Linked DNA regions of Homo sapiens. The protein of the gene in region 1 purifies or fractionates together with the protein of each later gene. This does not show direct contact. Each region holds a gene or a part of one and is shown in the gene's direction. Other genes may lie near its edges. The genes, in order: ENAH, MYO10, KIF2C and SEPTIN7.

Evidence for each region.
Region 2: the proteins of ENAH (region 1) and MYO10 purify together in Homo sapiens (co-immunoprecipitation; one study listed by IntAct). This does not show direct contact.
Region 3: the proteins of ENAH (region 1) and KIF2C purify together in Homo sapiens (co-immunoprecipitation; one large-scale study listed by IntAct). This does not show direct contact.
Region 4: the proteins of ENAH (region 1) and SEPTIN7 fractionate together in Homo sapiens (co-fractionation; one large-scale study listed by BioGRID). This does not show direct contact.

What each region holds. Positions count from the first base shown.
Region 1 is NC_000001.11:225,642,394-225,648,320, reverse strand, and holds part of ENAH (protein enabled homolog), read left to right. Parts: intron 1-5,927. UniProt on the Homo sapiens protein: Ena/VASP proteins are actin-associated proteins involved in a range of processes dependent on cytoskeleton remodeling and cell polarity such as axon guidance and lamellipodial and filopodial dynamics in migrating cells.
Region 2 is NC_000005.10:16,928,073-16,933,999, reverse strand, and holds part of MYO10 (unconventional myosin-X), read left to right. Parts: intron 1-5,927. UniProt on the Homo sapiens protein: Myosins are actin-based motor molecules with ATPase activity. Unconventional myosins serve in intracellular movements. MYO10 binds to actin filaments and actin bundles and functions as a plus end-directed motor.
Region 3 is NC_000001.11:44,741,340-44,747,266, forward strand, and holds part of KIF2C (kinesin-like protein KIF2C), read left to right. Parts: intron 1-5,054; exon of another isoform or gene 5,055-5,417; coding exon of another isoform or gene 5,418-5,420; intron 5,421-5,927. UniProt on the Homo sapiens protein: In complex with KIF18B, constitutes the major microtubule plus-end depolymerizing activity in mitotic cells. Regulates the turnover of microtubules at the kinetochore and functions in chromosome segregation during mitosis.
Region 4 is NC_000007.14:35,879,440-35,885,366, forward strand, and holds part of SEPTIN7 (septin-7), read left to right. Parts: intron 1-383; coding exon 384-501; intron 502-3,044; coding exon 3,045-3,137; intron 3,138-4,451; coding exon 4,452-4,548; intron 4,549-5,927.

The sequences.
Region 1 (5,927 bases):
TGAGTGTAAGAAAGATTTGAAAAAATGTGATTTCAATTTTTATATGGTTGTAGGGGAGTAAAAGGGTATTTAAACCCTACTTGTGCCAACTTAAAGTTGTCTTTTCCTCTTTTTTCTCCTCCTTGTTTGAAATTGATGAATGGAATTAAGTGGAAGTAAAAGTTAGAGAATATGAGCTGAGGCTGTACTTCAGTGGATGCTTCTTCAGATAAGGGTTTACGAAATTTTCCTGACTAGAAACAAGAAGGGGACTCCTTGTCAGACCTGGGATATAGTCCTTGACTTGCCCCTAACATGCTCCCCCAACCCCCTTGTCCCCCACTATTCCTGTGTGTTCCAGTGCACTTTACATGTTTTTTTGCTATTGAATTTATTCTGTCTTATAATTATGTGGTTCTTTTTGTCCCTCTTCATTGTAAGTTCCTTGAAGAGGATTTTTATATTCATGGTACTAGCAAAATACTAGCATTTTTATATTCATGGTACTAGCAAAATACTTGGCAAATAGTGGGTGGCCTGTGTAAGTGTTTGACTTTGACTGCGTTGCTCTTTTATAGAATCTGTTCACTAGCAACCCCATTTTTGGAATACCTGTAGTGTTCTAGAAGCTCTACTGGATATTGTAGGGTGTAGTGTAGTATTTGGTGGATACTAAATGTTAATAACATAATTTAATTAAGCAAGCAAAAACTCACATCCTGACTCCAGGAATAGGTGTAGAATTTGGTTTTCTTTTGTTCTTTTTTAAATTTTAATTTAATTTTTATTTTGTAGAGATGTGGTCTTGCTATGTGGACCAGGCAGGTTTTGAACTCACCTGGCCAGAATTTATTTCTTATTCTAACACAGAGCTTGGAAGTGGCTACAAGTGTCAGGATTGTCTAAATTCTAAGCCCTTTGGAGGATACCATGTTTACTTGACTTTATGATTAAATTCTGAATTACTGAAAGGGCCATCAATCTGTTTTTAAGTCTCTTTGACCAAAGAACTTGTAAATATTTTCAAGTAACAAGCATATGCATCTCTATTGGTTTAATTTATTTTTACCCCATTTAGTGCTTGCTTTGTTTTGATTCTTTTTTTGTTTTTGTTTTTTGAGATGGAGTCTCACTCTTGCCCAGGCTGGAGTGCAGTGGCATGATCTCCACTCACTGCAGCTTCCGCCTCCTGGGTTCAAGCAATTCTCTAGCCTCAGCCTCCCGAGTAGCTGAGACTACAGGCGCGTGCCACCACGCCCAGCTAATTTTTTGTATTTTTAGTAGAGATGGGGTTTCAACATGTTAGCCAGGATGGTCTTGATCTCCTGACCTCGTGATGCGCCCACCTCAGCCTCCCAAAGTGCTGGGATTATAGGCGTGAGTCACCGCCCCCAGCCCTGCTTTGTTTTGATTCTTATCAGTGCTTCAAATACCAATCACTGGGTAGTGTATGATACTCTTGAAGTATTAGTGTGGGCTGCCATAACAAAATACCATAGACTGGGTGGCTTAAACAACAGAAAATTATTTTTTATTTTTATTTATTAATTTTTTTGAGACAGTCTCACTGTGTCGCCCAGGCTGGATTGCAGCGGCTCGATCTCAGGTTACTGCAAGCTCTGCCTCCCGGGTTCACACCATTCTCCTGCCTCAGCCTCCTGAGCAGGTGGGACCACAGGCGCCTGCCACCACGCCTGGCTAATTTTTTTGTATTTTTTAGTTGAGATGGGGTTTCACTGTGTTAGCCAGGATGGTCTTGATCTCCTGACCTCGTGGGATTACAGGTGGGAGCCACAGCGCCCGGCCTAGACATTTATTTTAAGGTTCTGGAGGCTGGAAGTCAGAGATCAGGTTGCCAGTATGGATGGGTTTTGGTGAGGGTTCTCTTCCTGGCTTGCAGAAGATATCCTTCTCTCTGTGTCCTCACATGGTAGGGTGGGTATGGGAATCCTGGGGTCGGGGAGATGAGGGGGGATTTCTCTCTCCTCCTCATTTCATAAGGCCATTAATCCTATTGAATTAGGGCCCTGTGCTTATAACTTAATTTAACATTAGTTACCTCCTAAAAGCCCTTTTTCCAAATAGAGTCACATTGAGGGTTAGGGTATTAACATATAAATTTTAGGGGAACACAGTTCAGTCTATAGCAGAAGATAACTACATTTTTTTTTTTTGTCAGTGCATACAACTTTGGAAGAAAATAATTTGTTTAATATTTAGGTGAACTTTAGATAAGTTTTGTTTTAAGTAACCAGAAGTTGTTTACTAAAGAAGATAAATTAGGGGGGTTGATTGATTTATACAAGATATCCGTTAAATTTTCTAGAAATCTCTTTACACTGGGAACCTTCTATTTTACAATGATTAAAGTAAGTTTTATTAACAGGCAACTTTTCCAAAGACTACTTTGGGTATGAGGCAATGTATGTATATCTAAGTGTAGAGATTGAATGGTGTAGGGTAAAGAGGACAGGCTTTGAAGTTAACTCTGGGTTTGACTCTAGTTTGACATTTACTAAATAATTTATTTTTGAGTGGGTTATAAACATTTTTTGGGATCGAATATACTTTGTGAATTATAGAGCTGTTGAGAAAATTAAATAAAATTCTGGCATAACACTTGGCACACAAAATGAGCTTGATAAGAGTAAATCCCCCACTTTTATGAAAGTCTGACATCTCTTAAGTTTATGTTAAGAATGTGAAAAACCATGTAAGATGGTGCAGCTGCTTTAGAAAACAGTTTGGCAGTTCCTCAAAAGTTAAACATAGAGTTATCGTATGACCCAGCAATTCCTTTCCTAGAAATGAAAACATTTGTCCACAGAAAAACTTGTACACAAATGTCTATAGTATCGTTATTCATAACAGCCAAAAAGCAGAAATAACCCAGGTGTGTCTGATTTCATGAATAGATCATCAAAATGTGGTATGTCCATACAACAGAATAATATTTGGCCATCAAAAGGAATGGAATTCTGATACATGCCACAGCGTAGATGGAAGCATTATGCTAAGTGAAATAAGCCAGACACAAAAGGCGATATATGCCATGATTCCATTTATATGAAATGCCCAGAATAGACAGATCTATATAATAACACCAGAAGATCTCATTTGCTTTTTACGTGAGTTGTTTCTGACATTTTTATTACTTTGGATTAATATTTTGAATTGACATCTTCGTGCTATTTAAAGAAGAGAGATTGAAGATAGAACCACTGGACATTTCTCTGTAGGGAAACAAGCACGTGGGAATGCTGAGGTGGAAACCTTGGTAGTGGTGGCTTTGAAAGGCCTGAACAAATTTTGGAGCTGTATCTTCGTGCTAAGGAGACAGCCAGCCATCTCTTTGGTAGGCCTGTTGTAAGTAAGGATGACTAAAGTCACCAGTAAAATGTGATGAAGCAAATCCATCAGAATCTTCAGAAAACTTAAATCTGGGTGGTGATTTTCTGGGGTTTGTTTACAGTAGTCTCAAATACCAAAAGTTTTGTCTTTGGGGAATGAGGTAATCATGATATTTTTAAATAAACTGAGCCCTTTTCCAGTGGTAAAGGCCTTATAGAACATCTGGTCTTGGTAAGAATACATCTGATGATGTGAAATCAAAATGACTACCTTTAACTGTGCCTTAGAGGTCCTCAGTCTTCTGTCCTTTTTGGTATCTGTTACATTTGCAACTTGGCAGCGGGGGAGCTTTATGAAGAACCAAGAACTTAAGTAAAATAAAATGAATAGCTCTTGAGGTCAAATCTCAAGGGAGTCCAAATTGCTCCTTTTACAGTTCAGTGAAGGGATCTTTTTATGCAGTCTTAATAATTATTATATACTGGTTATTTGAATATCTGCTTTGTTCTGCAGTCTTTCTCCTCCTCCCCCAAATTCTCATGTTAGACTGATATTGCAAGCAAAATTGTGACCGTTCAGTTTTTAACAATTTAAGATTTATGTATCTTAAGTTTTCATTTAAAACTTTTACTTACAGTCTACTTAATTGTGGTCTTTGCACAATTTTTTTAGAATTATTTTTAGAAAAATAAATCAATTACTGTTGTCCATATGTCTGGTCAGTATTTTTTTAAATTACTTTTTTCCTTCCATTGTAAAGTAGTACAGATTTTGAACAGATTTTAGAAGGTATGGAAAGTATAAAACATTTATTTATGAAATGTTAAATCCAAGCCATCTAGTATTTTAATATTTTAATGTGTAGATTTCTAAACTTTTTGTAGTGCATTTGCAGCATTGCAGATCATTGTGCGTGTGCATATGATTATATATAAAAGTAAGATTATACTATTTAAAAATGGAATTATACTATATTTGTATTGTGTATTTTGTAGCTTGTCCCTTTCCATATATATAATATCTATACTTTTTACATTTTATTATTTTTATTTTTTAAATAGGGTCTTAAACTGTCACCCAGGCTGGAGTGCAGTGGTGCAATCATAGCTTACTGCAGCCTCGAACTCCTGGGCTCAAGCGATCCTCCCATCTCAGCCTCCTGAGTAGCTGAGACTACAGATGTGCGCCACCACACCCTCTAATTGTTAAGATTTTTGTGCAGAGACAAGGTCTCGCTATGTTGCCCAGGCTGGTCTTGAACTCCTGGCCTCAAGTCATCCTCCCACTTCAGCCTCCCAAAGCACTCGGATTACAGGCATGAGCTGCTGTGTCCAGCCAGTAATTCTTGTTCCTAACTATATAGCTACATAACTTTAAGTGACTGCATAATATTCCATTGCTTTGGATGGATGACTTTGTCTACTTAAATCTTAAAGATGGACTTTTAGATTTGTTCCATTATTTTTGTTATTATAAAAAACACTGCTGTGAACATCTTTGGTTATATGTCTTTGTGTACATATCTGATACTGTTTTAGGATACATTCCTAGAAGTAAAATCAAGAAGTAGTGCTGTGTTTTGTTTTTTTTTTTATTTTTTGTTTCTTTACCTTTCTGTATCCAGTCTATCATTGTCCTACCAGGTCACCTTCACTTGCTTCTGTCCATCTCACTGCCTCAAGTCCAGGCCACTGTTATCTCTTACCTGAACTATTAGTGTTTCCTCATTTCCATTCATGTCCCCTGTTCTTCATGCATCACTCAGAATACTCTTAAAGTGGAAATCAGATATTGTTATTTCCCATGTAAAGCCTTCAGCGGCATCTTAGACTAAAACCCAAATTTGTCATAAAACCAAAATTATTAAGGTCTTGCGTGACCTGGCTCTGCATTCCAAGTTCCCAGCACAGGCCTCTGTGAGTATGCATAAGTATTTGAGTGAATAATAAACAAAATGACTAAAGGGAGTTGTATCAGTTTTTGATACACGTTACCAGATAAGCAAGAGTAGATGAGATTTCTAGTTACCCCACATTCTGGCCAGCTCAGGCCATTATCGGTCTTTTAATCTTTGCCAATGTGATAGGTAAAAGGTGTTACCTCATTGGTTTAATTTGTATTTCTTTGATTACCTGTAGGGTCTCTTTGTTTGTTTATTGGACAGCTTTATTTTTGTGTGGATGTCTGTTCATGTGCTTTTTCTGTTTTCCCAATGAGATGTGTAGTTTTTCTTCTAATGATTTATAATAATGAGGATATTAACTCTTCATAGTGCATATACATATATCGTATCCGATATTACTGCTGTTTAACAAAGCATCTCAAAGCCTAGTAAAGCTGTTACCCGGGCTGGAGTGCAGTGGTACAATCATAGCTTACTGCAACCTCGAACTCCTGGGCTCAAGTGATCCTCCCACCTCAGCTTCCTGAGTAGCTGAGACTGCAGATGTGCTACGGATTGGCTGGGCAGCTCTTCTTACCTGGACTCATTCGTGTGTTTTCCTTCACTTAGGTTCATCTGGTGTGTCTATCCCATCCCTCTGCCTCATCGCTCACTTAACAATAGCAGCCTCCTCATGACAACATGCCCTAGTATG
Region 2 (5,927 bases), on another chromosome or scaffold:
GATATGAGTAAGTCCCTTGCCCAGCTTTGAAGAGCTTGTTCACGAATCCAGAGCCTTTTTCCTTTGCTGCTGGTGACTTTGGTATTTCTGGGAACTTTTCGCTTATTTTAAGGTTATACTTTTAATCTTGTGATGTATGTGTATTACAATATTAACTTCTAATCAGCCGTGAAAGTTCCACCCTTAAATCTAATCACTTTGAGTGGGAAGGAAGCAGGGCCAGTCAGAGAGGTTAAATAGTGAGGTATTAATTGTAGACATACTCTTAACATAGATCCCAGCTCCCCTTTCTCTCTCTCATGTCTTGTAATGGAGCATCCTTTTGTTAAATTGTCCAGTGAAGAAAATGCTGTAATTAATGTCCTGTTAGAATAGAAACAGCGAGTGTGGAAGTGATATATTCCCCAAGGACAGCTAAATTGTTTGGCCTCCTTATCACTAAGTAGAATTCTGTCTTTGCTAACTTTTCCCATTGTGGCTTAGGGGTAAATGACTTGTTGCTTGTTGGACAACAGTTTAAAGCCAGTGCTAACAATTGGGGAAAAATTACTGAATGAGATGTTGCCTGTTTAGCTTTGTGTATGAATGGCCAAATAATAAGGAAATGGGAGCTGCTTGTGATTCGCAACTGCTATTTCTAGCTAGACCAGGGTTTCTCAAACCTGGTACCATTGCTGAGTAATTCTTTGTTGTTGGAGGCCGTCCTGTGTGTTGTAGGAGGTTAAACGCATCCCTGGACTCTACTCAGTAATTGTTAACCCTATCCCCCAAGTTGTGACAACCCGAAAGGTCTGCAGACATTGCTGAATGACAGGGGAGCAAAATCACTCCCAGTTGAGATCCACTGAGCTAGACCTGTGAAGCAGTTGTTTGGCGGTATTAATTCCTATTTGTGTTGCAGGCACAGCCTTGTCTGCGCTTCCCTGTTTTAAATAGGATTTGGCCGGGTGCGGTGGCTCAAGCCTGTAATCCCAGCACTTTGGGAGGCTGAGGTGGGAGGACTGCTTGAGCCCAGGAGTTCAAGACCAGCCGGGGCAACATGGTGAAACCTCATCTCTACAAAACTTAGCTGAGTGTGGTGGTATGCACCTGTAGTTCCAGCCATTCTGGAGGCTGAGGTGAGCCCAGGAGGTCCAGGCTGCAGTGAACCATGATTGCACCGCTGCGCTCCAGAGCAACAGACCCTGTGTCACAAAATAGATAGACTCTTACTGCCTGCTAGATTGATTGATTAATTAGATAGATAGTGTCTTACTGCGCGCCAGGGGGAAGCTTGCAAAGCTTGTGCCAGTCAGCTGACAGCTGCTGACTTCAAAATGTTCTCCAGGATTAGAGAAACTGAGCATGCCACATTCCTCAGTTTCAGTTTCTTCATGGCCTTCATTAGAATTTTATGGCTCCCCTCGAGTTAATTGTGTGTATGCTTTGGGGAAGCTTGTTTTTTCAGCATTTCTAAGTAAGTTGTTAAGTTTACTTCAGCCAGAAACTAAGTTTAGATGTGTCTGTAACCAGAAGCAATAATAATAAAAAAAGCAAACAGAAAAGGCTCAACCAGGAAAGGGGCAAGGCTACTGTGCAAACTTGTGTTGATGTGCTGAAGTGGACACTGTTTTCATGTCTTCAGGGCCAAGTACAGTGCCTGGAATATAGTAGGGGCCAGTAAGTACCAAATGAAATTGACCTTTCTGTTTCCCTGTTAGGCAGAGGTGTGATGTGTCTGTTCAAATACAAGATCTCGGAGGATTATTAGTGAGACTAATCAAACACCTTGATTTTCAGAATAAATATGTAAAATGTACACAAGTAAGATACTCACAAATACAAATACAGAAAGCAGGTATTAATGTTTAAGGGATAAATTGTTAGTGGAAAATATTCCAGACATACCTGTTTCTTCCAGTCTGGTTCACTCTGGATTAGAGCAGACTTCATTCTAAAGACGTTAAGTGGAAACACCAACCTCTTCTACTTAACTTGACAAGGGACTGTGGTTGTGGTTGGTTATCTGGAGTTGTTCAAATAGCTTTTTAAGTGAGTAGAGTTCCCAAGCCAATTTTCTCCCCATTTGGTTGTATATTTTTTTTGTTTGTGATCTATTGACATCTTTTCTTGTTAGAGAAAAATGTGGACATTGTTATTTTTGGCAGCTTTCTCTCCTCACCCTCGATATGTCTCCATGTGTAAAGGGGAACTGCTGAGGACTTCTTGTATCACCAATTCCTGAAGGCAACCCCTTTGATGACTATAAAATCATATCAGGAGATTAGCTGGGTCCCTTTCCCTTTTCTCACAATGGAGATATAGCGTGTTGCCTCTTCTCTGTAGTTTGAAAACATTTCTATTGTCAAGTACTCATTTTTTTTTTCCCCCTGCTATGTTGGGGACAGCAAAGCCAGGGGGAGCAGCTGCAGTGGGACAGTTGTTGCAGCAGGAGCAATAAGCTGTCTGGCTGGGGCGGGCAGGGTAGGACTGCTTCCTCACTCCATATCATGTGGCCGGCTGTTCCTGCAAAATCAAGCACAAACCAGGAACAAGCTGGCATGGGCAGGTCCCTCACTGTTTAACCAGAGTGGTGGAGGGAGAGAGCAGAGTGTTTGCTTTTCCAGTTCAGCTGGCTTTAAGTGGGCTCACATTTGAGGATGTAAACCTTGAATGTGCTCTCCTGCTGTTGTGATTGGTAGGACATGGAGTATCTTATTATTATTACTATTATTATTATTATTGTTTTGAGATGGAATTTTGCTCTTGTTGCCCAGGCTGGAGAGCAATGGTGCGATCTCGGCTCACCACAACCTCCGCCTCCCGGGTTCAAGCGATTCTCCTGCCTCAGCCTCCCGAGTAGCTGGGATTACAAACATGCACCACCACACCCAGCTAATTTTGTATTTTTAGGAGAGATGGGGTTTCTCCATGTTGGTCAGGCTGGTCTCGAACTCCCGACCTCAGGTGATCCGCCTGCCTTGGCTTCCCAAAGTGCTGGGATTACAGGCATGAGCCACCATGCCCAGCCGGGAGTACCTTATTATTCATGAGTTTCAACAGTTTGGACTTAGAGTAACTGCTACGTAACATTTTCATGTCACTAGCTAGTAGGGGACGTTCAAGAATGAGCCTCCGGTGAAGTCTGGATTAAGCGTTTCCCCTTGCCTAACTGCCCCCAGGCTGAGTGCAGAGCATCCTATCTTAGCAGTAGCGCTTGGCTCCCTCCGATGGGATCTCAGCCAGATGCTCTAAATCCTGAACTTGAGCTCTCTGGTCTGTAAATGGGCGTAATAGTTCCTAGTTTGCATGGTTATCAGCCGAATTTGAGAGAGGACTTACAGAGCCCTTGGCACATAGTAGGTGAGTAATAACAAAGGCTTGGTCACAGTAACTGTACTTTGAAATTAAGAACCAGTGGCCCTTGGTGAATGGAATGTCAGTACTCCTGGTGCAGGGAAATCTCGACCTTAGAGCTTTTTGTTCTGAGGTAGCTTCCTGTGGTGCGTTGCATTTATTTGTTTTCTCTTTTTCAGCCTGTACATTTCTGGCAGATTTTGTATTTCCAGAACTCTGTCTAAAGCATGTTCTTATTGCTTATAAAATTAAGTCCACATTCCTCAGTCTGGTTTTCAAGGTTTTCTGATCTTGTAACTCTCTCTTTATTCTTTTCTCGCACGTGATCCTACACCAGAGGATCTGTTACCCAGTTCCACTCCATCCTTTGTGCAGGCAGGCCTCTCTGTCTATCGAATGTCCCACCTGTCTGGCTCCTTTTTGAAACCGTCTCTAACAGGTCTAGTTCACGGTGACCTCTATTCTCTTACCTCTAAACCTGGCTCTCTTTCTGTCTTGGTCTTGTTAGGAGGGATTTACTGCTGTTAGCTAGAGGCTTTACATGCTTTACAAACCCTCTCCCCTTTTCAAATGAGTAAACAGCCTTGCGAGGTTAAATATCTTATTTGTAAGTAAGTTTCATCACTTCCTTGGCATTGAAATGTCCTCATGGTTGAGATTCAATCCTTGCATAATGGTTATTTTCAGATTATTTTATGGCGGGAAGGGGAGATGCTTCTAACTTTTTCCCTTGATTATGAAGTATCTTACAGTTCTTTGAAGACAATAATAAATATGGCTAGTGTTTCTTGAGTACAGTCAGCCCTGTACTCAGTATCTGTGGGTTCTGCATCTCTGGATTCAACCAACCTCTGATTGAAAATATTCAAGAAAAAAATTGCATCTGTACTGAACATGTAGACTTTTCCCCATGGATTTTGGTATCTGGGGAAGGTCTTGGAACCAGTTCCCTATAGATACATAGGGACAACTGTACTTACCATGTGCCAGGCATGTTGCTGGCACTTCACATTTAGTGACTCATTTAATCCCTTGAACAACCCTATGGGAAAGGCTCTATAATTATACCCAATCCATAGATGAAGAAAGTGAGGCACAGAGAGGTTAAGTAACTGACTCAGTGTCACACAGCTAGAAAACGATAGCCAGGATTTGAACCCAGACAGGCTGTGTCCAGAGCCACAGAGAGTTCTTCACTGCCATGCTTTTCTGTCCTGTTGATGTCCTTTGCCTTAAACTTGCGTCATCTTCTCTAGGCTCTCTGATGAAATGCCCTAAAAGTGGGCAGTTATTAAATGATTTTCAAGTGGAAAACTGCATGGGAGTTTAGGAAAACAAGTAGTCCACACCCTAGAAATGTTGAAAACTCCGCAGGAAAATGTTCATCAGCTTTTGAACATGCCACTGATTTGGCCGGGTGCAGTGGCTCATGCCTGTAATCCCAGCACTTTGGGAGGCCGAGGTGGGCGGATCACGAGGTCAGGAGATGGAGACCATCCTGGCTAACACGGTGAAACCCCCATCTCTACTAAAAATACAAAAAATGAGCCGGGCATGGTGGCGGGCACCTGTAGTCCCAGCTACTCGGGAGGCTGAGGCAGGAGAAGGGCGTGAACCCAGGAGGCGGAGCTTGCAGTGAGCTGAGATCGCGCCACTGCACTCCAGCCTGGGCGACAGAGCAAGACTCCGTCTCAAAAAAAAACCAAAAAAAAAACATGCCACTAATTTTTATTTGATTTGCTTTTTTTGGGAAAGCCAAGCGCCTTCTGTTTCCTTCTAAAAATGTGTGTGTGTGTTTTTGTTGTTGTTGTTGTTTTTTGAGATGGAGTCTTGCTCTGTCGCCCAGGCTGGAGTGCAATGGTGTGATCTCGGCTCACTGCAACCTCCACCTCCCAGGTTCAAGCGATTCTCCTGCCTTAGCCTCCCAAGTAGCTGGGACTACAGGCGCCTGCCACCACACCCGGCTAATTTTTGATATTTTTAGTAGAGATGGGGTTTCACCTTGTTGGCCAGAATGGTCTCGATTTCCAGACCTTGTGATCCACCCGTCACAGCCTCCCAAAGTGCTGGGATTACAGGTGTGAGCCGTCATGCCCGGCCCATAAAGTGTGGTTTCTAAAGCTGGTTGTCCCAACTTCATGAGGATAGTAGGAAGGTTTACATACTAAAGCACTTAGGGCCATGTGCTCATGCCTGTAATCCCAGCACTTTGGGAGGCCGAGGCAGGTGGATACCTGAGGTCAGGAGTTCGAGACCAGCCTGGGCAACATAGTGAAACCCTGTCTCTAATAAAATCCAAAAATTAGCTGGGCGTGGTGACATGGGCCTGTAATCGCAACTACTTGGAAGGCTGAGGCAGGAGAATCGGTTGAATCCGGGAGGTGAAGATTACGGTGAGCCACTGCACTCCAGCCTGGGTGACAGAGGGAGACTGTCTCCAAAATTGTAATAGTAATAATAAAAATATTAAAACAAAATAAAGCACTTAGAAAACAAGATGATTTGAGAAGTGTTTATTAAAAGAAAATGTGGGACTCATTTGTTTCCCTAATTCCAGCTGTCAATTAATTAGTGAAGTGTTACTTGAGGTT
Region 3 (5,927 bases), about 180 Mb from region 1:
CCGCTGCACTCCAGCCTGGGTGACAGTGAGAATCTGTCTCAAAAAAAAAAAAAAAAAAAAATTGGCTGGGTGCGGTGGCTCTTGCCTCTAATCCCGACACTTTGAGAGGCCTGGTCTGGAGGATTGCTTGAGCTCAGGAGTTCGAGACCAGCCTGGGAAAAATGTTGAGACCTTGTCTCTACAAAAAAATTAAAAATTATCAGGGTGTGGTGGCTCACGCCTGTGGTTCCAGCTACTCGGGAAGCTGAGGTGGGAGGATTGATTTAGCCTGGGAGGTTGAGGCTGCACTGAACCATGATCGAGCCACTGCACTCTGGCCTGGGCGACAGAGTGAGACCTTTCCTCAAAAAATAAAAATGGTCTTCTTGGCTGGGCACAGTGGCTCACATGTATAATCCCAGCACTTTGGGAGGCCGAGGTGGGCAGATCGCTTTGAGCTCAGCAGTTCAAGACCAGGCTGGGCAACATGACAAAACCTCATTTCTACAAAAAATACAAAAAACATTAGCCGGGCATGGTGGTGCATGCCTGTGGTCCCAGCTGCTCTGGAGGCTGAGGCTGGAGAATTGCTGGAGTCTGGGAAAGCACAGGTTTCAGTGAGCTGAAATTGCACCACTGCTCTCCAGCCTCCTGGGCAACAGAATGAGGACTTGTCTCAAAAAAAAAAAAAAAAAAAAAAAGAATGGTCCCCTTCCAGATGCATTGGGATTTTATTTAGTCAGGTCCATTCTAAATTGAAGCAATCAATAATTTTCTGGGTTTTTTTTGTTTGTTTGTTTGTTTGTTTTGAGACAGAGTCTCACTCTGTCACCCAGGCTGGAGTGCAGTGGCGAGATCTCAGCTCACTGCAAGCTCCGCCTCCCGGGTTCACGTCATTCTCCTGCCTCAGCCTCCCGAGTAACTGGTACTACAGGTGCCCGCCACTACGCCCGGCTAATTTTTTGTATTTTTAGTAGAGATGGGGTTTCACTGTGTTAGCCGGGATGGTCTCGATCTCCTGACCTCGTGATCCGCCTGCCTCTGCCTCCCAAAGTGCTGGGATTACAGGCGTGAGCCACCATGCCCGGCTCTGGTATGTTTGTAGAAAGCAAACTGCAGCCAGGCGCAGTGGCTCATGCCTGTAATCCCAGCACTTTGGGAGGCCGAGGTGGGCGGATCACTTGAGATCAGGAGTTTGAGACCAGCCTGGCCAACATAGCGAAACCCCCATCTCTACTAAAAATACAAAAATTAGCTGGGTGTGGTGGCACGGGCCTGTAATCCCAGCTACTTGGGAAGCTGGGGCAGGAGGATCACATGAACCTGGGAGGCAGAGGTTGCAGTGAGCTGAGATCATGCCACTGCACTCCAGCCTGGGCAACAGAGTGAAACTTCGTCTCAAAAAAAAAAAAAAAAAAACAAACTGCACAGAATTTTAGGTTTTAGAAAACTTTGCTTGCCCAAGCTAGGTTCTGCATGCACACTACCTGTGATATCAGTTTGGTGAATGAAATCAATAACCTGGTTGAGGAGACAAAAAGACGTTTCTGAATCACCAACTAACCAACTAACAGAAGACAACTTGTGATGAATGGCACAGATGAGCATTGCTAGAGCAGCTCAGAGGTGGAAACTTGCTGAGAATGGGCTGGGCTTAGAGGGTGGAGTGTGAAGGCTTAGCTGAAGCAGCAAGATGGCACACATGGGGACCATGAAGAAGCTGGCCACGAGCAGTGCAGGGCCCAGGATGCTTGGCAGCCGCAAAACAGCTGAAAAAGGAGACAAAGGTCTTCATGTCTGGCACTGAGCTGGTTAGGTTTTCTTCTGTAGGCAGTGGGGAACCTTGGAAGGATTTTGAGGAGAGCACTGTGACTAAGACATTTCTGTTCTAGTGGCATTGTGGTGTAGTGAAAAGGTCACTGGGCTAGGAGTATGAAAACCTGGATTCTAGTCTGGCTCTGCCACTGCTTTGTGTTCTCAGGCATGTTTCTGCCCCTCTTCGAAGTTTAGTTTCCTCATCTATAAAGTGAGGATGATAATAATGTCTACCTCACAGGGTTGTTGTGAGGATTTACTCAGCACATTTTTTGGACTGCTTCCAAAATGCTAGACACTTATTGGGTGCTAGGGATACAGAGGTGAAGGAGACAGACTCTTGGACTCTCTTCCATGGAGCTTAATAAAATAATACATGTAGCTGGGCACAGTACCTGTAATCTCAGCACTTTGGGAGGCTGAGGCAGGAGGACCTCTTGAGGCCAGGAGTTTGAGTCCATCCTGGGCAAATACAGCAAGACCTCATCTCTACTAAAAATAAAAAACAATTAGCCAGTCATAGTGGCTTGCGCCTGTGGTCCCAGCTACTCCAGAGGCTAAGGCAGGAGGATTGCTTGAGCCCAGGAGTTCAGGGCTACAGTGAGCCACTACACTCCAGCCTGGGTGACAGAGTGAGACCCTGTCTCAAAAACAAATAAATAAAAAAGATAAAACATGTAAAAAGCTTGCTTAGCATAGTACGTATAGTAGAGATATTTAGGTGGTATATTTGAGAAATAAAAGGATTGAATACTTTCCATTATCTGCCCCTAAAGAATTAAGAGGTTCCTAAAATTCCTTTCAACCAGCTATTATCAGTCTTTTGTGATTTGTTTTTGTTGCTTGTTTAGAAATATATCCCTTGTTTTACCTCAGATCAAATACTGCTTTTGGAATAAGATCCGAACTTCTTAGTGGGGCATTCAGAGCCTTTTCAAGCTCTGGTTTTTTTTTTTGTTTGTTTGTTTGTTTTTTGAGACAAAGTCTCACTCTATCGCCAGGCTGGAGTGCAGTGGCACGATCTCCCTCAGTGAGCCGATTTCGGCTCACTACAACCTCCATGCCCCAGGTTCAAGCAATTCTCCTCACTCAGTCTCCCAAGTAGCTGGGATTACAGGCACCTGCCACCACACCCAGCTAATTTTTGTATTTTTAGTAGAGACAGGGTTTCCCCATGTTGACCAGGCTGGTCTCAAACTCCTGACCTCAAGTGATCTGGCCATCTTGGCCTCCTAAAGTGCTGGGATTACAGGCATGAGCCACCACATGTGGCTCAAGCTCTGATTCTAATCACCCTTTTTCTTTGTACCACATACTCTTCTTCCACATATCCTATGCCCTGGCAAATGAGGCAGTTTACTGCTCTGTGACTGCCTAATTCCCTGCTGCCTTTACACTCTTATTCCTTTCTCCTGGGATGTTCACCCTGAATTATCAACATGAGAATCAGTTGATTGTCAGAGCAAGGCTTAAAACTCTGGTTTTCGCGGGTCGTGGTGGCTCACACTTGTAATCCCAGCACTCTGGGAAGCTGAAGCGGGCGGATCATGAGGTCAGGAGTTCAAGACCAGCCTGGCCAATATAGTGAACCTGCATCTCTACTAAAAATCCAAAAACTTAGCCGGATGTGGTGGTGCGCACCTGTAGTCCCAGCTACTCAGGAGGCTGAGGCGGAAGAATCGCTTGAACCCGGGAGGTGGAGGTTGCAGCGAGCTGAGATCGCGCCATTGCACTCCAGCAGCCTGGGCGACAGAGTGAGATTCCGTCTAAAAAAGGCCGGGCGTGGTGGCTCATGCCTGTAATCCCAGCACTTTGGGAGGCTGAGGTGGACGGATCACCTGAGGTCAGGAGCTCAAGACCAGCCTGGCCAACGTGGTAAAACCCTGTCTCTACTAAAAATACAAAATTAGCTGGACATGGTGGCGCATGCCTGTAATCTCAGCTACTCAGGAGGCTGAGGCAGGAGAATCACTTGAACCTGGGAGGCGGAGGTTCCAGTGAGCCGAGATCATGCCACTGCACTCCAGCCTGGGCACCAAGAGTGAAACTCCATCTCAAAAAAAAAAAAAAACCTCTGGTTTTCTTTGTTGTTTATGCTCTCTGTAGTTTAGGGGTTAGAAATGGGGGAGGTATGTACCAAGAGTCTGTGGCTGTCCCAGAAGTGTGGATAGAAGTGTGATTACTGAAGTGCTTGCCAGCTTTTGCATTTAGTGATTCTATCCTCCTTTTTTTTTTTTTATTTAAATCTCATTCTGCTTTGATTTCCTTTGTACATATGACTTATAATCCCCATTAGAAATTGAGCTCATGGTGGCAGGGGTTGTATATGTCTTTTTTTTTTTTTTTTTTTTTTTTTTGAGACAGTGTTTCGCTCTTGTTGCCCAGGCTGGAGTGTGATGGCGCTATCTTGGCTTACTGCAACCTCCGCCTCCCGGGTTCAAGCGATTCTTCTGCCTCAGCCTCCCGAGTAGCTGAGATTACAGGCATGCATCACACCTGGCTAATTTTTTATTTTTAGTAGAGACGGGGTTTTTCCATGTTGGTCAGGCTGGTCTTGAACTCCCGACCTCAGGTGATCTGCCTGTCTCAGCCTCCCAAAGTGCTGGGATTACAGACGTGAGCCACCACGCCCGGCCTATATATGTCTTAATTCATCTTTGACTACCTTCCCCCTGTAGGCTGCTGTCTTCGTGGTGCCTAACAAATGTTTGAATAGGCAGCAAATAACTGCAGATTTCTTTTTTCTTTTTCTTTTTTTTTTGAGACGGAGTCTCGCTGTGTCGCCCAGGCTGGAGTGCAGTGGCGGGATCTCGGCTCACTGCAAGCTCCGCCTCCTGGGTTCACGCCATTCTCCTGCCTCAGGCTCCTGAGTAGCTGGGATTACAGGTGCACGCTGCCACACCCAGCCAACTTTTTGTATTTTAGTAGAGACAGGGGTTTCACCGTGTTGCCCAGGCTGGCCTTGAACTCCTGAGGTCAGGTAATCCGCCCACCTCGGCCTCCCAAAGTGCTGGGGTTACAGGCGTGAGCCACCGCACCCAGTCCTGCAGGTTTCATCTCTAGGCAGTAAAGCCCTCACCCTAGAGTACATGCTTCAGCTCTGTCACATTTTGAAATACAAAGTTGGGACAAATTTAATATGTCTGAACCTGTTGTAAAGCTATCCTGGTGAAGTTTGAGTTGTTCCTGGAGAATTGCAGGACTCTGATGATGTAAACTTAGAATTGTGACCTCATTGCAGGCATCAACAGGAAATAGGTAAGGCATGGGCAGGAAGCCGTAACTGGGGAAGTTTCTGGGCCCAGAAGAAAATGTAGGTAGTCTTAGGGTTAGGTAGCAGCTGTCAGGAACTTGCCCCTGCCCATAAGATCCTAAAGGGCCCCCATTTGACTCTCACCAGACAGTTAGAACTTGTTTCCTCCTCCGTGTCAGCCATCAAGAGGTGCTTGGGGGGCTGTGCCCAGCAGGACCTCACTGCCCAGCAGATCAGCAGGGGAGCCAAGTGGCCTAGATCTGCTGTGGAGTACCCGACTGTTTGCCTGCCTGTCTGCCCTCCTCTTCACCTCATTCTCATCACTGACGTCTACCATTGGCTTGGAAATCAGAAACCCATATCCATCTAGATGGTAAACCATTATTAAGGAGTAACTATTTGTTTTATAGCTATTCATACTTAGTGGAACTTAAAGTTGGTAAAGTTTGAATTTAGGGGTACCCCTGTCTATAGAAATTTAATTTTTTCTATGTTGTTTTTTTGTTTGTTTGTTTGTTTTTTGTTTTTTGAGACAGAGTCTTGCTCTGTTGCCCAGGCTGGAGGGCAGTGGCTCAATCTCAGCTCAATGCAACCTCCGCCTCCTGGATTCCAGCAATTCTCCCGCCTCAGCCTCGGGGGGGCCAGGCACAGTGGCTCACACCTGTAATCCCAGCACTTTAGGAGGCCGAGGTGGGGAGATCACCTGAGGCCAGGAGTTTGAGACCATCCTGGCCAACATGGTGAAACCCTGTCTCTACTGGAAATACAAAAATTAGCTGGGCGTGGTGGCGCATGCCTGTAGTCCCAGCTACTCAGGAGGCTGAGGCAGGAGAATTGCTTGGACCCAGGAGGCAGAGGTTGCATTGAACCAAGATCGCAC
Region 4 (5,927 bases), on another chromosome or scaffold:
CTGCACTCCACCCAGGGCAACAGAGTGAGACCCTGTCTTAAAAAATTAAATAAAAAAAAAAAAATTAAAAACCTTGTAAATTTTGAGTAATAAATATAGAGATAATTCTAGGAAATTCTATTAGGAGCCTTTCTGGTTTTTCCAATTCCTCTTTAGGGCCAAAACCCTGTGACCAGGGTTCAAGGGCAGGAGTCAAAGCCTTAGCCACTCCAATGCTTCTTGAAGTCCTGTTCTACCTAACTTTTGCTGGCCTAATACATCTTCAGAGTGTTTCTGATAAGTAAGTAAAGTAGTTACATTGTATTTAACTAGCATTGGGGATGTGAAGAATCTTGTTCTCCCAAACTGATCAATTCAGTCAAATTAAATACTGTGTATTTCAGACTTAAACCATTGGATATTGAGTTTATGAAGCGTTTGCATGAAAAAGTGAATATCATCCCACTTATTGCCAAAGCAGACACACTCACACCAGAGGAATGCCAACAGTTTAAAAAACAGGTGAGCAGGATGTGTTAACCCAGGTTTCTTATACCGTTCTCATAATTTGCAGTTTTTACTATTTTTAGTATAATGTGTTGCAATCCATTCCTCTTACTGCTTTACTATATTGTCATTTATACTGTATTAGAAATAACTCTTCAATCTTCTGCCTTTGTCAGTTTTTAAATATGGCTGTTTTAAGTGTTCTGTAATAACACCCCCACACAGACAATTTCTCCCCATACTCTTTAGAATTATTTTCTTTTTTCTTTTCTCTTTTCTTTTCTTTTTTTTTCTTTTCTTTTTTTTTTTTTTTTTTTTGAATTATTTTCTTAGAATGAATTCCCAGGAAGTGGATTATTCTTTCAAAGGCTATGATTGTTTTTATGGGTCTTTATCTCCCCACTCCCCATTTTGTCATGGTGCTTTCCCAATAAAACAAATTTGTACATCTGTTTCACTGTGACTTTGCCAGCATTGTTATTTTTATTTTGAAAACTTTTTTGGAATGAAGTGGTAACCAATCATTTCTTTGTCTTTTCCTTTTATTTTCCCGAAAGGCTGAACATTTTAAAAACAAAGTCATTTTTTTCCCCCTTTTTGTAAACATCTGCTCAAATCCTTTGTCTTTTTGACCAGTAGTACTTGGTATTACCCGTATTTATTGATATGGGTTCTTTTTATTCTGGATATTTAGTTCTCTCTCATTTTCACAATATTTTTTCTGTTTTCTCTTTTGCTGCTTATTTTTGTTTTCAGTGCACTAATTTTGTTTTCAGTGCACTTTACGGGATATTTATAGTTTAAGTTATTGTTCAAACCTATGACCCTAAGATTAAGAGTCTCATGCTGTATGACTGAGCTAGCTGGAAGGCCACTAAACTGTTTTTCTAGACTCACGTCTAGTTGTCTCAATAATATTGAGTTACACAGTCACACATATTTCTAATTTAATTGTGTTTGGTTCGTTATATATTACATTTTATGAAATGTAAGGTCAATTCTGGAACCTTTCTCTATTCCAGTAGTCCAAAGGCCAGTAGTATATTGTTTAAACCACAGCAGCTTTATATAATATTTAAAAGTAGATTGTAATTATCTCTATTGTCCATATAGTCCTATTGTAACAAAATACTTTGTTTTTCACCTTTTTCAATATGAATTTCAGAATACCTTGAAACCTGTTATAAAAAGCCTGTTAAAATTTGCTTTGAAGTTGTGCTAAATTCATACTAATTTTCAGAAAGTTTTAGTACATTGTTTTTACTGTATCTAGTATTTTTGTGTTTTACACTTACCCATTCCCATTTTTGTTTTGTAATGTGCTATTTCTAAGTTTCAAACACTATCATATAATACATTTCTTTTTGTTTATTATGTGTTTCGATTTGGATTTTTACTGATAAAGGTAAAAAAGATGAATATGAAGTGACCTCTTCTTTCAAATTGGTCACATCCTGGTGGTTGTACTCAGGTCATTTTAATATACAACCTCTGACTAAAACCATTGCTTTTAGAGCTAGCTACTATTACTCATTTTTCTCGTCATCATGTATTTGTCAATTCCTTGTTTATTCTTTTTTTTTTTTTAAATATAGGTACGTACCCTAATTGTAAAAGAAGTGTGGTCCTATTTTTTTTCAGTGACAATTTTACTTCTGTTTACTTCTGTCTACTATAGTAACCATGTAACACAATTTGTTCAGGGTCCTTTTATAGCTGCTGGGAACCTTTGCCAAGAAAGTTGCACCAAAATATAAGTATAGACAGGGAAGCTAGGTTTAGGTATATTAGCCATTGGTTTGTTATGGGTTCAAATAAGGATAGGTAGTTGAAAATTATTTGGATGTCTGTATTCTGTTTAGAATTGGAGTGATTTTGAACATGATAATTTAATTTGAACTAGGTCATTTCTGATGTTAATAATAAGTTGTCTTCTCTAGGTTTCTGCATTCTCCTTATTAATTCTTGAGCTTCTTAATTTCTAGGATGTGTTTTCTCCCTGTGTCCTTCCCTAATCTTACACCTGTTGCTCCTCAATTTGTGTGTATGCACATGTACATGTAAGGATTTTTCTGATGAATGTTCAGGGAGCAGTGCTGTACTTAGTTTTACCTTACTTTTGCCAGATTCTACTAAAAATTTTACGTGAGTTTAGCCCTGTTTATTCAACTAAATAAGATACTTGGGAATTTATATCTAAAGGAAGAATCTCAGTCATTGTAAATAAATGACCTAAAGTCATTATTGTGGAAATCAATCAGAGAAATCCCTTTCTGGAGTTTTACATCCTTTTTGGAACTCTTTTGGTATGACAGCTATATGACTTTAACACTTCGGAAGTAATTGGATTTGGTGTTTATATATCAACTTCATAGTTAAAAAAAAAAAAAAGACTAGCGTAGTACTTTAATTTTAGATTACAACTTTGCATCATTAAAAAACAGTAAAGGATCTGGAACCAAGGACCCATATAGGAATCGAAGAGGCATGTAATGAACATAAGACTAATATACTAATTATGTATGGTGCTCTTTTGCTGACTACTTCTTCCATTTTAGATAATGAAAGAAATCCAAGAACATAAAATTAAAATATACGAATTTCCAGAAACAGATGATGAAGAAGAAAATAAACTTGTTAAAAAGATAAAGGTAGGTTCATCCCTGTACACACGCTAAAGTAATCTGAGGCCTTAAAAACATACTACAGCGTCCACAGGAAAGATCAAAAGTATCAGTGTTTTAAGTAGTTGGCTTACAAAATACCTAGGGAGATTTAATGTTGAATTCAACTTTATAGTTAACTTTGAAGATTAGCTAGTATATATAATAAGGAATTGTATAAACTACTGAGGTGAATAACACAATTCTTATTTCAAAGTGTTTTTAATTAACTGGCTTTCATATTATGTAATTTTTTTCTCTTAAAAAACAAGTGATGAGAAAGGAGAGAATTCGTTCTGTTATGTTTTAATTGCCAGACAAAAATGTATTTATTTTGTCTCTATAAAAGCCAACCAAAATTACAGCTAGATAGGAGGAGTAAGTTCTAGCGTTCTGTAGCATTGTAGGGTGGCTGTAGTTAACAGTAATTTAGTCTATATTTTCAGATAGCTAGAAGAGGATTATGAATGTTCCCAATACAGAAAAATAAGTTTGAATTGATAAATATGCTAATTACCCTAATTCAATCATTACATATTTGTATAAAGTTATCAGAATACCATACTGTACCCCACAAATGTGTACAATTATGTTTCAATTAAAAACAATAAAAACCAACCAAAAATTCACATCAACATATTTTCTGTATTTTATCATGGTTTTCTATGTACTTTGGCCCTAAAAATGGTATACTGAATAATGGCATTATGTAGGCAAATATCTTGGAATAATGAAATTCTTATACATTGCCTGTGAAGAATTTCTGCAGTTGTAAATAGCTGCTTAGGTATTTCTGGGAGCCACAGAATTGTGAAGGGCTGAACATGGATGAACACAAATCCAGTCACCAGGATTTGAATTTCCAAAGTTAGAGCTTAACAAATATACTATTACCTGGTTTAGGTACTGTTATAGTTGGTTTGTGATCAAGTAGGCAAGCTAGTCATTAGCCCCCCGCTTTTTTTCCCCCAAATGCCAATATAGTTTTTACCTTTTATCCCCCCCCAGGTATGGGACAACTTTCTGTAGTGATTTTTAGTAAATAATTTGACCAGTATATGCTTGAATATTCTTAACATTAAAGAGAAAATTTAATTTTATTTATTGTTTACCTTGGTGGCAATACCATGTGATGGCAGTTTACTAAATATTTGTTAAATGGCCTATAAAAACTAATGCAGAAACTATCGAAAGTAAATTTTTTTTTTTTTTGGCTAACCTGTTGAGTAATGTAACTTTTTTTATTTTTGAATTTGTGAGGACTACAGAGATGTATTTGAACAAGAATACTTTGTTTTATAGGACCGTTTACCTCTTGCTGTGGTAGGTAGTAATACTATCATTGAAGTTAATGGCAAAAGGGTCAGAGGAAGGCAGTATCCTTGGGGTGTTGCTGAAGGTAAGATTTTCTTCAGTGAATGACTTTCTAAAATATCTCAAAACTGATTAAAAATTTGTATTTATAGTAAGTAGTACAGTATGCACACTGTATTGATATAGTCTAGATTTTCAAGGATAATACTGATTTCAGGTTCTTGTAGTCTCAATTTTCTCTTTAAGTACATTGGTATTTTTCAAACCTGTATCCTACCAAGTCAGGCAAGTGTGTGTTAAGTCCTAAAGTTGTAGTATAGGTTGAACATTCTTAAAGAGAAAATTCAAAATGTGAATTGCTCCAAAATAAAACGTTTTGAGCACTGACATGCTGCTCAAAGGAAGCGCTCACTGGAGCATTCTGAATTTTGGATTTTTGGATTAAGGATGCTCGACCAGTAAGTATAGCACAGATATTCCAAAATTCCAAAAAAATTCAAAACACTTCTGGTCCCAAGCATTTCAAATAAGAGATACTCAACTTGCCCCACCCTGGCTGGCATCCTGCCTCATCATTAAGTCTATTTCTGTTTTCATATTTGAAAACATAACTAAAATTGAGGGGTTCTTTACCTGGGGCCCAAAGTTTGCTCCCAGGGAATCTAATGAACCACCTGGAATCAAACATTTGGAGAGAAGGCCAGTCACTTTTATCGGAACGTCAGATGGTCATGGACCCTCAAGAATGATTGAAGAAATTTGTAAGCCCAGTTAAAACATCCACAGTCTTCTTTCCTCAGTGCAAAAGTTGCCCTTTTTGATATCTCATATTTAGAGTAAAAAAATTTCGTTAATAAGAGATCCTCTTTACTAGTTTTGTAAGGAGTTTTTTGTTTTCTTTTTTAACCTGCTATCTTAAATTATTAAGGGTTAAGTAAGGAGTTTTAAATACCAATAAAATCTTAGTTATAACACCAAGCCTCAGAAGTACTTCCTCTTGGCAATAGGTTTATTGTATTGGTTTAATCTGATACTTAATCTTCTGTATTATAGTAAGCTGAAACCAAAATTGAGATTTGATTGTTTTATCTGTTTGTTGCTATTATTTTTGAACTTCGTTTTTTTTTTTAAGAGACAAGGTCTTGCTATGTTGCCCAACTGGCCTCAGAATCCTGAGCTCAAAGTGATCCTCCCACATCATGCTCCTCCCACATCACGTCACTATAAGCACACACCACTGCCCCTGGTTTATTTTGAACAATTCTTTAATTTTTAGGATATTGTTTCAGGTAACTGTCCTTATTGGCAATTTTCCCATCAGTGACCTGTGTACCTTGTTCCCAGCTCTCTCTATCATGCCCAGGCAACTTTTACTTGCTGAGCTGGGGCTTTAGAACTTACCCCTTAAAAATACGCACCGGAGAAATTGATTTGCATCTCTCTTTTGTAGTTTACCCCTCTACT